4 linked regions of the Homo sapiens genome follow. The protein of the gene in region 2 purifies or fractionates together with the protein of the main gene of each other region. This does not show direct contact. Each region holds a gene or a part of one and is shown on either strand. Other genes may lie near its edges.

The links.
Region 1: the proteins of PACSIN2 (region 2) and TRIOBP purify together in Homo sapiens (affinity purification with mass spectrometry; 2 studies listed by BioGRID and IntAct, with this or other methods). This does not show direct contact.
Region 3: the proteins of PACSIN2 (region 2) and MICALL1 purify together in Homo sapiens (affinity purification with mass spectrometry; 2 studies listed by BioGRID and IntAct, with this or other methods). This does not show direct contact.
Region 4: the proteins of PACSIN2 (region 2) and RAI14 purify together in Homo sapiens (affinity purification with mass spectrometry; 3 studies listed by BioGRID and IntAct, with this or other methods). This does not show direct contact.

The regions. Positions count from the first base shown.
Region 1 is NC_000022.11:37,695,583-37,699,847, reverse strand, and holds the start of TRIOBP (TRIO and F-actin-binding protein), read right to left. Parts: upstream 2,801-4,265; 5' UTR 2,759-2,800; intron 2,261-2,758; 5' UTR 2,152-2,260; intron 1-2,151.
Region 2 is NC_000022.11:42,869,273-42,872,149, forward strand, and holds the end of PACSIN2 (protein kinase C and casein kinase substrate in neurons protein 2), read right to left. Parts: exon of another isoform or gene 2,713-2,877; intron 2,232-2,712; exon of another isoform or gene 2,198-2,231; coding exon 2,085-2,197; 3' UTR 501-2,084; downstream 1-500.
Region 3 is NC_000022.11:37,926,797-37,930,296, forward strand, and holds part of MICALL1 (MICAL-like protein 1), read left to right. Parts: exon of another isoform or gene 1-143; intron 144-159; coding exon of another isoform or gene 160-330; intron 331-614; coding exon 615-1,030; intron 1,031-3,500. UniProt on the Homo sapiens protein: Lipid-binding protein with higher affinity for phosphatidic acid, a lipid enriched in recycling endosome membranes. On endosome membranes, acts as a downstream effector of Rab proteins recruiting cytosolic proteins to regulate membrane tubulation.
Region 4 is NC_000005.10:34,659,328-34,662,827, reverse strand, and holds part of RAI14 (ankycorbin), read right to left. Parts: intron 1-3,500. UniProt on the Homo sapiens protein: Plays a role in actin regulation at the ectoplasmic specialization, a type of cell junction specific to testis. Important for establishment of sperm polarity and normal spermatid adhesion.

The DNA of each region.
Region 1 (4,265 bases), 5.2 Mb from region 2:
GATTCCTGGCCAGGCGCAGTGGCTCACGCCTATAATCCCAGCACTTTGGGAGGCCGAGGCGGGCAGATCACCTGAGGTCAGGAGTTCGAGACCAGCCTGGCCAATATTGCCAAACCCTGTCTCTACTAAAAATACAAAATTAGCCAGGCATGGTGGTATGCACCTGTAGTCCCAGTTACTCGGGAGGCTGAGGCAGGAGAATCACTTGAACCCAGGAGGCGGAGGTTGCAGTGAGCCAAGATTGCACCACTGTACTCCAGCCTGGGTGATAAGAGTGAGACTCTGTCTTAAAAAAAAAAAGTGATTCCCCAGGTGATTCTAGTGCGCCCCAAAGTTTGAGTGTCCTTGTCTTATAGCTGCATTGTAGATCAAATTAATGCCAATTTTAGATCAGGCAACTAAGGCTCAGAGAGGTTCCTTCGGTCACTGAAGGTCGCAGTGGCTGATTCAAATCCAGGGCTGTGTGTGTCCCTGCTCTCTCGGAGGTGGAAGTGAGGAGCACTGGATCATACTGCCAACTCGCACAGGTCCCTTGGGAAGCACAGCGAGGGAGGCAAAAAGCTGGCCAGGTATTTTCAGAGTTGAGGACGACGTCTTTGACAAACGTGAACAGCCTAAAGTCACACAGCAAGTTTGTGGCAGAACTTAGCCAAAAAGAAATCCTAATGTGTTTTCGTTTTGTTTTGTTTTGTTTTTTTGAGACGAAGTCTCTCTCTGTCACCTAGGCTGGAGTGCCGTGATGTGATCTTGGCTCACTCGGCTCACTGCAACCTCCGCCTCCTGGGTTCAAGCAATTCTACCTCAGCCTCCCCAGTAGTATCTGGGATCACAGGCATGCACCGTCATGCCTGGCTAATTTTTGTATTTTTAGTAGCAACGGGGTTTCGCCATGTTGGCCAGGTGAACTCCTGACCTCAGGTGATCCGCCCCCTTCGGCCTCCCAAAATGCTGGGATTACAGGTGTGAGCCACTGCATCCGGCCCCTAATGTCTTTTTTGGGGAGGTGGGGGCAGGGTCTTGCTCTGTCACCCAGGCTGGAGTGCAGTGGCTCGATCATAGCTCCTTGCAACCTCAAACTCCCGGGCTCAAATGATTCTCCTGCCTCAGTCTCTGGGACTGAGTAACTGGGACTACAGGTGTACGCCACCACGCCCAGCTAATTTTTTTCTTTTTTATTTTGTAAAAATGGGCTCTTGGCCAGGTGCGGTGGCTCACGCCTATAATCCCAGCACTTTGGGAGGCTGAGGCAGGCAGATCACTTGAGGCCAGGAATTCAAGACCAGCCTGCCCAACATGATGAAACCCTGTCTCTACTAAAACTATAAAAATTAGCTGGGCGTGGTGCGCATGCCTGTAATCCCAGCTACTCAAGAGGCTGGGGCAAGAGAATTGCTTGAACCCAGGAGGTGGAGGTTGCAGTGGAGCTAAGATCGCCCCGCTGCACTCCAGCCTGGGCAACAGTGTGTCTCAAAAAAAAAAAAAAAAAAAAAAAAGGCTCTTGCAGTGTTACCCAGGCTGGTTTTGAACTCCTGAACTCCTGACCTCAAGTAATCCTCCTCCTTCCCTCAAAGTGCTGGGATTACAGGTGTGAAGCATCATACCCTTCTGAAACCCTGGTGTCTTTCTTTCTTTTTTTTTTTTTTTTTTTGAGACAGAATCTCGGTCTATCACCCAGGCTGGAGTGCAGTGGCGCGATCTCGGCTCACTGCAACCTCTGCCTCCCGGATTCAAGCAATTCTCCTGCCGCAGCCTCCCAAATAGCTGGGATTACAGGCATGTGCCACCATGCCCGGATAATTTTTTTGTATTTTTGGTAGAGACGAGGTTTCACCATATGGGCCAGGCTGGTCTCGAACTCCTGACCTTGTGATCCACCCACCTCGACCTCCCAAAGTGCTGGGATTACAGGCTTGAGCCACCGCGCCCGGCCGCCCTGGTATCTTACTTGTGCAAGGGTTCTCCTTTCTGGGTGCCCCTAAGGCCACCAACATCCATGCCCTGGAGTGGAGCTGGGTCAGGAGAATCACTTAAAGATGGCCTCCCCACTCACACAGAGCCCCAGGGGGAGGGTGGGGGGTGGGAGGAACCCAACATCCCAAAACACCTGCAGCTTTTGGTGCCCCCAGGTCACCTGCCCACATCCATCCTCACCTGCTGTGTTCCAGGGGATCAGGCTTTTGTGGCCAATCTTGGTGGAGAGCTGAGGAATTTCACCTCCTCCCCTGGGACAGCCAGGGCCAAGGCTCCTCCATCATCAGACCTGGAGAAGGGAATGCGGTGGGGGCGACAGCAAGGCACGGTGGGGAGAGGGCTACCCACTGGTCCTTCCGTGGCCCCAGGGTCTCTGATCCTCCCCGGGCGGTCGTCCTCCCGACTCCTGGTGGTGGAAGAGGGGCGCATCGGCCCCGCCCGTCCTGGGCGTTTCTCTCCTGGTCTGGCCACATAAAGGAGCGTCGCCTAGCAGGAGAACGCCGCTCATTTTCCTGGGGGTGGGTAGGGGGCTCTACTCCACGTGCCCCTCGCTGCTCCCGTTTCCTCCCCTACCCACAACCAATAGGCAGAATCCTTCTCTAAAATGCACTTGAGATGTGGATATAATAATCAAAACCTTAAGCAGCTACACATGCCCCACCCAGAGAATGGACCCGGGACCCTCTCCATCCAGGCATTCAGCCAGTTCCTCCCCGGATCCCTCGACCCCTACCCCTCCTGTAGGCCTCCCCCTACCAGCTCCTCTTTTCTGAGGCCCAGTGCTAACCTTGGCTGGGTTTCCACGCACAGGGGCTGCCGGGGTGGGAGTGCCAGGGTCATGGCCTCTTTATTTTAACAATGAATCAGAGCGATGCTCGGGAGGTGGAAGGCCACGCCCCTGCCACGCTCGCATAGGCTCTCTCTGGGTGCCTCATTTACATGAAGACTGTGGGACTCTGTGGGACTGGACAAACCAGAACAAGGGGCGGGGCGGAGGCAGGCGGGGCGCAGATACCTCTGAGAGCGGGACTCACTGCACGTTTAGCCTGGGCCGCCTGCAGCCCTTGCCCGCTGGGGGTCCCCAGGGAGCCCTGGAGAGGGCTGGCACTGGCGGATCTGGCTCCTTCTGACCTCTTTCCCGTTGGTTCATTCTGCCGACAGTCCGCTGGGCTGGCTTTAGCACAGACCTTGGACTAGAGTCTTAACCTCTCTGTCATGACAGTTTTCTTACCGAGGAGGCGGAGGTTGCAGTGAGCTGAGATAGCGCCATTGCACTCCAGCCTGGGCGACAGAGCAAAACTCTTGTATAAAAAAGAAAAAAAAAATAGCCTGGCGTGGTGGTGTGCGCCTGTAGTCTCAGCTACTCAGAAGGCTGAGGCAGGAGCATCGCTTGAACCCGGGAGGCGGAGGTTGCAGTGAGCCGAAATCACACCACTGCACTCCAGCCTGGGCAACAGAGTGAGACTCCGCCTTAAAAAAAAAAAAAAAAAAAAAAAAAAAAACTTGTTTCCCATCTTTTTTCCTTTTGGTTGATATTTGCCAATTGTGGCGACTGGGATGGGAGGAGGAGGGCGAAATTCACTGGACAGGGAGGAAGGTTGCAGCAGGAGTCCAGGAGAGATGGGTGCAGTGATGAGACAGGGAAGGTAAACTAGATTCAGACACTTGTAGGCAGGTGAGCTTGGCACTAGGGTCACAGAAATCTTAGATTATTTTGAGAGTTGTTGGGGATCACCTGGGGGTTGGATTCAGACAGGATTGGCTGAGAACCTACATTGACACAAGCTTGTGCCCAGAGCAGAAACAGAAATGACTAAGATACAATTTCTCACTCAGAAAGCTCTGGTCTGGTTCGAGGGACAAACCAGGATTCACTGTGTTCAGTGTTTAAAAGAAGGAAACACCTACTATCATGGGAGGTCAGGTGGAGAAAGGAGGAAGGCAGAGAAGGCTTCTCCTTGGAGGTGGCTCAAAGGTGAGGAGATCGAGAAAGGCTGAGAACAGCCTGCAAACCTCTGAAGGTGGCTGGGGGAGGCCAATGCTAGCTCAGAACAAGGCGGGCATTTCTAGCAGTCCTCACAAGGGAGCAGGCAGTGAGCTCTCCAAGCTCAGGAGGAACTGAAGCCCCTCACCAGAGCCACCTGCAAGCCAAAGGAAGGTCAATGGCTCAAACCTGGGGGCGTCAAGGTCGTCAGCACCACTGGGACCTTGGAAAGGATGGACGCTGAGGCTTATATGACCCCAGAACACCTGCCCCCACAGTTCCTCACCTCACCCCCCTGGGGAGAGCTCAG
Region 2 (2,877 bases):
TTCGCTCAGTGCTTTGGGCTGGCTGAGACTCCTCAAGAAACCCTGGCTGGCTCTTGGAGCCTCTGTTTCCTCCTCGGTAGAATGGAAATGGGGAGACTTGCCCATACCCTGTGGAGATGTTTGGAGACGCAGATAATGTAAGTAAAAAGTGGAGAGCACACAGTAGGTGCTCAGGAAAATGTGCTCATAGGAGAGTTATGGGTGATGTCAGTCTTGTCCTGCTGTTTGGGCTGGGGCAATAGAGAGGCGCCAGCCGATGCCCGCACCATGTGGAAGCCCAGGTCAAACAGCAGCAGGTCTCGGGGAGAAGGGAACCCCAAGGGGCTCAGGTGCCTCAAATCCCCAACCTCCAGTTTGGCAGGGGCAGTGGGCCGTGGCCTTTTGGGCAGGGGTCCTGTGCCCTGGATCTTGCCCAGCTCCAAAGCTAGTAAGCCCCAGGGAGGCCACCCCCGCCAAGTGAAGTGGGCATGAAGACAGATGATGGCGAAGGGACTTCCATATGCACGAGATCAACTGTTTATTGATTTTTTTCCTCAAATACTACACATGTAAAGGAACTGTTAAACTGAAAAAGACTTGACAATTTTTGGTAAATCCGTAGCACAGAAATGAGGATTTCTGCTGGTAAGTTCTCAGGACAGACACAGACACAGGTCCACTTTCCAAGCAAGACATCTGCTCACTGGAAACGGAGTGAATGCATAGCTGGTGACGGCGGCGGGCACTGCTGAGTCACGTGAAACACAGGTTCCCCCACGTTCCCCCCACCCCCGCCGGCCCGCGTGGCCCCCGCGTAACTCTGGCTGCAGCACCTGCTCCCGGGCGACTCCGGGCAGCCCGAGACACTCGTGCTGCGGGTAAGACCCAGCTTCTGTTTGTGCACAAGTAACACGACGACTGAAATCTGCAACTACTGCAAAGACGCGGGCACTTTTACAGTGTTCTGCTACGGAGCCAGGACAAAGGCCGGTCAGAAGCCGGACCAGCAGTCAGCTGGTGACGACGAGCCTCCCTCCAGCAGGCACCACGTCAGAGAGGCCCCAGGCCCACTGAGCCCGGGAGGAGACCCAGCCGGCCAGCCAGACGTGTGCCTGAATGCCACAGACTTCAAGCAGTTTACAAACGAAACTCACTGTTAAAAGCTGTTAAATCTCATTAAAACAGTAGACGAGTGCTTTAGATTCTCTGAATATCAAATAATATATACAGATAGACACTGAGACATGACAGTCTAATCTAAAGCATCTTTACAGATGCATTTGCTTGAAAAGTTAGTCTTCTTTTTAACTCTGAATCAGTGATAAAATTGTTAATTTGCAAAAGAGTACAGTTTTAAGCAAGAATAGAGTGAAAATAATTTTTAAATATGGCGATTTGGGGGAGTTCTACCTAAGGTTCTATGTAAAGCTTCCATTCAGATGCCCAAAAGCACAAAGAGCATTCCCAATAGAAACCCGACCATAACCCGGTCCCACCTTCCTGGCATAATTCCTTTCCTCAAACATCTGCCACCTGAGGCTAAGCCTACACACGGCGTGGCTGAGTAACAGGGTAAGGGAATAGGGAGATCGTTTCCTCAAGACTGGTGCGCATCAATCTGTGCCATAATTTAAGTAGAAATGAACAGGTGTATAAAAAAGTATAACTGTACACAGCCTTTAAATTAAAAACCTCAAAATCTTCACTCAAAATGGGATGTAAGCTTGTTCATTTAAGTTGCAGGTGATGGACTCGTCAGAGAGAGTAATCAGTGGAACAAGATCAGTGTAACCCACCATTGACTCGGAAAGGAGAGACAAAGTCAAGAACATAGAGATCTATGATAGGCCAACAGGCACAGTGGGCGGGGAGGGGCGGCTATTTCTGTTGTTCTGCGTCTTCCTGCGCTCAGATCCCTCCAGCTGCACTCGGAAAGGTGCCGAGTCCCAGGCGAAATGACCAGCTCATCTGCCTTCCAGGAACACCATGAAGCCAAGAGCAATGGAACCATCATCTCTTGCAGGAAAAGGAGTGGATGCCCACGTGGCTGGCTGAGGCTCCTGGGCCCGCCGCCTCCGTCCCCCCGCTGGCCTGTCCCCGACTCATCACTGGATCGCCTCCACATAATTTGCCGGGTATAGGCCAACTTGCCCGTTGTCCAAGCGTCCCTTGCACCAGCCCTGCTCATCCTCGTCCTCCATCTTGGTCAGCTCATCCCCTGCAAGACAAAGAGGGAGCCGTCTCCATGAGAGGTATGACACCGACGGTGGGCTACAGAGCCGCATTCACGAGCTTTGAGCCCACAGAGGGTGGAGGGCCAGGCATTCTGTGGCGGGCAGGCCGAGGGCCTGGTCATTTCTCTACTAAATGCATGCATTTTAAGTTGCCTCTTTGGTCATGGGCCTCTGACAGACCTAGAGATGACAGTCTCACACAGTAATTTGGAACAAGCTGCTCTCAGCTGCCACAGTGGCTCCCACTGAGACTGCGGCATCCAGCTCCATAGGGCTGTGCCTTCCTCACCACCCTGGCCAGGTGGCAGGAATCGTCCCTCGGTTGTGCCCCTCCCTCACGTTGGGCCTCTTCTGTCCCCTCCCCAGGGCCCCGGCCGCCTTGCTCCCAGCAGCTGTCTCTGGGGTCTCTCTGCCTTTGCTAATCCCTCTCCTCTGCAACTTCCAGGCTGCGAGGGGAAGGGACCATGTCTGACAGTCATACCTGTCATTTTATCCCCAGCACCTGGCTGATGACTTGTGCACGGTGCCATGTGTCAACCCTTCCTGAGACCCTGAGAAGGAGCCCCTGGCGCTGTTCTGGAATCTCCCTGTGGCTCTAATGTATTAACGTGGTTCCATTTATCTTTGGTTGTTCCAACCTGAAGGACCTCCTACTTCTGGCCAG
Region 3 (3,500 bases), 4.9 Mb from region 2:
CAGCTGAGGCTGGCCTGTCTGGGTGGAAGTGGTGGGCAGCTTCAGGGGACAGCAGAGGAGCATGAGCTCTGGAGTCAGATACAGTGGATTCAGTCCCACCCCGTGCTGGGGCGAGTGCCCTCTCCTCTCTAAGCCTGTTGCCTCATCTGGAAAATGCAGATAATGTGTTTGGAAGCATCATATCCATCAGCCACGAGGAGATAAATTGGTGCCCGGCAGTGCCTGTCCCAGAGCTGGTGGCTGCGAGGGCTGCGTGCTCCTCCCCTCTGCCTCCGCACTGCAGATCAGGGGCAGAGGAGGGGCCACCTCTCTTCCTCTGGCATTCCCAAGGTGGTTTTGCTGTGGGTGCCCTCATGGGGGCTATGGGGAGTGTGGGGAAGTGGAGGCAGCAGGCAGAACGCAAGGCGGGCGGGTTGGACTCGGGTGGCTGGATGCACCTCATGACTTCCGTCCTGCCGGGCGTTTGCTGTTCCCTGGGCCTTGGCCCTGTCTCGATGTGGAGGGCTTGGGTTTCTGGGGCTGCCTGCGGCTCTGTTGAGAGTGGAGCCGGGAGGTGGGGCTGGAAGCCCTTGTGGTGCTCCCCTTGTGAGGTGTCCTGGTGCTCGTCCGCACAGCTCTCCACGCCTCCCGCCTCTCGCACTCGGAGCCGCCCTCGGCCACACCATCGCCAGCGCTCAGCGTGGAGAGCCTGTCGTCTGAGAGCGCCAGCCAGACTGCAGGTGCAGAGCTTCTGGAGCCGCCAGCTGTGCCCAAGAGCTCCTCAGAGCCTGCTGTCCATGCCCCTGGTACCCCTGGAAACCCTGTCAGCCTCTCTACCAACTCCTCCCTGGCCTCCTCTGGGGAACTAGTGGAGCCTAGAGTGGAACAAATGCCTCAAGCCAGCCCTGGCCTTGCCCCCAGGACCAGGGGCAGCTCAGGTCCCCAGCCAGCCAAGCCCTGCAGTGGCGCCACCCCAACGCCTCTCTTGTTGGTTGGAGACAGGAGCCCGGTGCCTTCCCCTGGAAGCTCGTCCCCACAGCTGCAGGTAAAGGTGAGTGCCCCCTCACCCTCACTAAAAGTGACATCCTCTCTAGTGGATGCGGGTCTGGTCTCAGGGCAGAAATGTCCAGGGCCTTTTCTTAATTTTTTTGAGATGGAGTCTCTCTCTGTCACCCAGGCTGGAGTGCAGTGGCGCGATCTTGGCTCACTGCAAGCTCTGCCTCCTGGGTTCACGCCATTCTCCTGCCTGAGCCCCCAAGTAGCTGGTACTACAGGCGCCCACCACCACGCCCGGCTAATTTTTTGTATTTTTAGTAGAGTGGGGTTTTCACCCCGTTAGCCAGGATGGTCTCGATCTCCTGACCTCGTGATCCGCCTGCCTCAGCCTCCCAAAGTGCTGGGATTACAGGCATGAACCACCATGCTTGGCCTTCTTTTTTATTTTTTTTTGAGACGGAGTCTCGCTCTATCACCCAGCCTGGAGTGCAGTGGTGTGATCTCGGCTCTCTGCAAGCTCCGCCTCCCAGGTTCACACCATTCTTCTGTCTCAGTCTCCCGAGTAGCTGGGACTACAGGCGCCCGCCACCATGCCCAGCTAATTTTTTGTATTTTTAGTAGAGACGGGGTTTCACCGTGTTAGCCAAGATGGTCTCGATCTCCTGACCTCACGATCCACCCGCCTTGGCCTCCCAAAGTGCTGCAATTACAGGCGTGAGCCACTGCCCCCGGCTGTCTAGGGCCTTTTCTATCTTTACTGGCCTCTGACTTCCTGAGTGGCCTTGGCCAGTCTATCTACCCATTACCCACTCTGTCCAATGAGGCACAAACCCGTCTGTCCATGCTTCCATCCATCTGCCAGAGCTCCCACCTATCTATCCACCTGTCCACAAACATAGCCTCCCAGGTCTTATGTATCAGGGCCCCTGTTTGCCTCCCATCCCCTCCACTTGCCTATTTGGGTTCCACTCACCAGCCACCAGTCATCCCGTATTGTCTGTCCGCTCTTCCATTCACTCAGGCTCTACTGATGCCAGACCCTGGGCAGAGTTGTATTAAAACCCTATCCTGGCTGGGCGTGGTGGCTCACACCTGTAATCCCAGCACTTTGGAGGCTGAGGCAGGCAGGTCACTTGAGGATAGGAGTTTGAGACCAGCCTGGCCAACATGGTGAAACCCCATCTCTACTAAAAATACAAAAATTAGCCAGGTGTGGTGGCAGGCACCTGTAATCCTGGCTACTTGGGAGGCTGAGGTAGGAGAATTGCTTGAACCTGGGAGGTGGAGGTTGTAGTGAGCTGAGATGGCCCACAGCCTGGGCAACAGAATGAGACTCTGTCTCAGAAAAAAAAAAGACCCTGTCTTTGGCCTCCAGGGGCTCACGATCTGCTCAGGGAGATAGGCATAATGGGCATTTTGGAAGGTGACCTAGAGTAGAGCACAGAGGGGAGGGATTCACTCCCTTCTGCAGAGACCTGGGTCTCCCCGCCATGGAACAGGGGAGCTGGGGTCTCTGAATGCCTCCCATGTGCATGGCTGCCTGGGCTCCACAGGTCATGTGGACATAGTGGTCCCTGTCCCCAAGGCGCTCCCAGCCAGGTCAGGGGGAGGTGCTATAATGTACATGCTGCTGTGTGTGGAGTTTGTAGTGGGCAGGGGGTCAGCCCTCAACAGGCAGAAGGACCCAGGACACACAGCTTTCTTGGGTGCTTCTGTTGTGTGCCATGAGGGGTGTTTACCGAGGAGAGCAGACGTGGCCCTATCCTGTCCTCCTGCTCCCTTGCTGGGCTCTGTCTTTTCTCAGGTGACATGGGCGTGGGGAGGTTCTGGCTGGGCACCCATCCAGGCTGCTCCTGTTCCAGGTATGCTGTGTGCTGTGGGCTCACCTGTTTCTCAGCCCCATACTGAGAACCTGGGGATTGCCTGGGCTCAGTACTTTCCTCTGGGCACCCAGTTCATGAGGGCCCTGTCTTGCAGCCACAGCGCCTTTGGATGGCCCAACGCTCTGCAGGCCTCTGAGCTCCCAAGGCTCATCTGGCCCCAGGTAGAGGGTGGCAGGACAGCCTTTGTGGGGCAGCTGAAGTTGTAGCCTGACCCTGCCCATGTGCCTCAGGCATCGTTGAACCTTCCCTGGTCCCGGCAAGAGCCTCTTGGGCATTGATTCTGGCTCTGCCTCCCACCTGCTGTGTGTCCTTGAGCAGGCCCCATCCTCCTCTGGGCCTCGGGCTCCCACAGATGGTGAGGGGCTGGCGGCACCAAGTGTCCTGAGTGCTCGAAAGACCCCCTGGTTCCTTGGTGGTGGAGGGCACGGGGGTGGGTCACCTTCGGATTCTCGTGTTTCGTGTCCTGGGCTGCGTGAATATTGGTCTGAAGTTTTGGGGCTGAGAAAAGGCTGAAAACCTTTGAGGGGCTCAGGGGCTTTGGGCTGCTTGGCTCTGCTGGCCCCTCTGGGTGTGTTAGAGGGAGGGGGCAGAACCCCGGGTGCACTTGCTTGTGGGGAACCCCTGTCCCACTGTCACCCCAGG
Region 4 (3,500 bases), on a different chromosome or scaffold from region 2:
GAACTTGAGAGGCGGAGGTTGCAGTGAGCCGAGATCACCCTATTGCACTCCCGCGTGGGCAACAGAGTGAGACTCTGTGTCTAAAAAAAAAAAAAAAAAAAAAAAATCTGTTTAAATTGTGCAACATTTTACTAATAATCATATAATTCTATGTTTATGATTTTCAGCTTAAAGTTTAACCCTATCTGGATCCATAATATACTGATTTCTTTCAATATCATTTTATTACAGAGGATACAATAAGAAATGTAAATGGTGTACTTCAGTATTCTAGTAATGTTTTAAAGGATATCATCAGTATCGTATACCTAATATAGTTCACTGGGAAAAAAAATCTAGACTCCTTTTCCCTATCACCATATAAAATGCATCCAAGAGGCCTCTGATATATTTAGCTTTGTTTTGTCAACTCCTATACTCATCATGCAAGGTAGAAAAAATTCAGTTGGCTTCTACTGAAACAATGCATTAGTGCTATAATAGTGAATGTTTTTTGTGCCATGAATTAAGGACTGTACGATGTGGCAATTCTTAGAGTATATCTAGGGACCTTTCTACATATTAGTTGCTCCAACATCTTCAGATTAAGGTTCTCATTTTCCTTCCATCATGAAAAATACATCCCTCCTCCCCCTCCAAAAAAATCCTCATAGATAAAAGCACAAAGTCAGGGCAATGATGATGTACACTCTGCAACAATCCAACAAAATACACTGTTTGTTCTTAGAAACGCAGTGTGGACCGGGGGCAGTGGCTCATGCCTGTAATCCCAGCACTTCAAGAGGCTGAAGCAGGAGGACCTTCTGAGCCCAGGAGTTCAAGACCAGCCTGGAAAACATAAGGAGACCTTGTCTTTGTAAAAAGTAAAAGAAAAACTAGGCAGGTGTGTTGGCACGCGCCTGTAGACACAACTATTTGAGAAGCTGAGGTGGGAGGATCACTTGAGCCCAGGAGTTCCAGAACAGAGCAAGATCCCATCTCAAGAAAAAAGAAAGAAATGCAGTGTGCTTCATGTTGCTTGGGATGGCTGCTGGCCTGTTACTGCAGATGTCGTGTGGAATACAGTCAGCATCTACTGGTTATGCATCTTCCACATTCATCGCATTGGAAACCAGGTTATCACAAAAGGAAAGATGGGTGTGCTTCCAAGCACCGTGTTACTTATGTTTTCCTCTAAATTCAGGATTAGGCAAAATGTTGGGAGAAAAAAAGTCTGAAGACATTAAGTGGCTTATAGGATAAATCACATAGATTTAAAAGGAGTGGTTTCCCTAGAAGACATAAGTTTTCTTACCCTGAAGGAATCTGTAAATATGAGATATGGTGCACATACCAGCACCATTTAGGATATCCAGTAAGTGTTAAAGGCGAAATTCCACAGAGAAAAAATAACAACAAAAAGCATATCCATTTGTTCATCAAACATCTGTTTACCTGCTAGGGGTCAACATTGTTCTAGACACCATGAATACAACAGTAAACAAGAGTGGCAAACCCCATGCCTTTGTAGAGCTCATAATCTAGTACAGAATACTGATATAAATTATAGATTGAGTATCCCTAAACCAGGAATCTGAATCTGAATCTGAAATGCTCCAAAGTCCAAAACTCTTTGAGCACCTACACGACACCAAAGGAAAGACCCACCGGAGCACTTCAAATTTTTGGATCAGGAATGTTCAACCATGTAATACAAATACTCCAAAAATTTTAAAAATATCCAAAATCTGAAACACTTCTGGTCCCAAGCATTCTGGAATAAAGAATACTCAACCTATACACGGCAAGCTAGAAGGTGGTAAGTGCCTTGGAGGTAAATAAAGCAGGGATGAGGTTGCAGGCTGGACTGGAAGGAGGTGTCTCAACATAACACCTGAAGGGATGACACAGCCATGTAGACGTCTAAGAGAAGTGCTTTCCAGGTAGTGGGAAGAGCACATGCAAAGGCTCTGAGGCAAGACGCCTGGTGATCCTTTTGCAGAATTCACGAGCATGATGATTGCATGTGTAACATGTGTCTGACATGAACTTAGGGAAAAAAAAAAAAAAGAATGTGCCCAGCAATTTGAAGGAATGAGGACGCCAATGTGTTTAAATGCCTTAAACTCCTTTCAGCCTGAGTGGTTACCATTAGGGTAAAAATGCGTCACTAACACAGCAACATTTTCACAGACTCTTAGAACAGGAATGTGCCTTTGTAAATGCTTACTCCTACCCCTTAATCTTACCAAAGAAATGAGGAAGAGGAGGTTGGGTGAGTAATCCAAGGTCACACGGCCAGTGAGTAGCTGAGAAAAGGTTTCTGCACAAGAATCCCAAACAGCACCATGGATTTGTCTCATGCTTCAATTTTACAATGAAGAGCCACTTTTTCTTTTTCTTTCTCTCTTTGAGTTGGAGTTTCACTCTTGTTGCCCAGGCTGGAGTACAATGGCCGGTGGGATCTCGGCTCACTGCAACCTCCACCTCCCAGGTTCAAGCGATTCATCTGCCTTAGCCTCCCGAGTAGCTGGGATTACAGGCATGCGCCACCACGCCTGGGTAATTTTGTATTTTTAGTAGAGACGGGGTTTCTCCATGTTGGTCAGGCTGGTCTCGAACTCCTGACCTCAGGTGATCCACCTGCCTCGGCCTCCCAAAGTGCTGGGAGCTGAGACAGGGTCTCACTCTGTCGCCCAGGCTGCAATGCAGTGGTGTAATCTAGGCTCACTGCAGCCTTGACATCCAGGACTCAAGCAATCCTCCCACCTCAGCCTCCTGAGTAGCTAGGACCACAGGCACACCACCACACCCAGCTAATTTTTGTATTTTTTGTAGAGATGAGGTTTTACCATGTTTCCCAGGCTAGTTTTGAACTCCTGAGTTCAAGCAATCCTCCTGCCTTGGCCTCCCAAAGTGCTGGGATTACAGGCATGCAACACTACACCAGTCCCACTTTTCTTAATTAAAACAAAGAAAGAAAAAAGAAAAAAATAATCCAGCCAACTATGTAATCTTCTTAGAATTTAATCAGTTTCACTTTTTTAGTCAACAGATAGCCAAGACCATACAAGCACCCTAAATATTTGTTGAAGAATGAATAATAAATGCAATATTACCTAAACTTCATTACCCAGCAACTAACTAAATAAGTGTGTAACAGAAAAATGTGTGCACAAGAAAACATCTCAGGATGTTTATTGTACAAACTGTTATAGTAAAAAGAAATAAAAATAAAAATGAAAATGGAAATAGAGTGTCACTCAGCAGAAAAAGTGTAACAGTGAAAAACTAGGCCAGGCACAGTGGCTCATGCACTGTGGAAGGCTGAGGTAGAAGGCTCACTTGAGGCTGAGAGTTCAAGGCCAGCCTGAGCAACATAGTAAGACCCTGTCTCTACAAAAATGAAAAAAATTAGCCAGGCATGGTGGCATGTGCCTGTGGTCCCAGCCACTTTGGAGGATGAGGCAGGAGGACTGCTTGAGCCCAGGAGATTGAGGCTGTAGTGAGCAGTGATCACG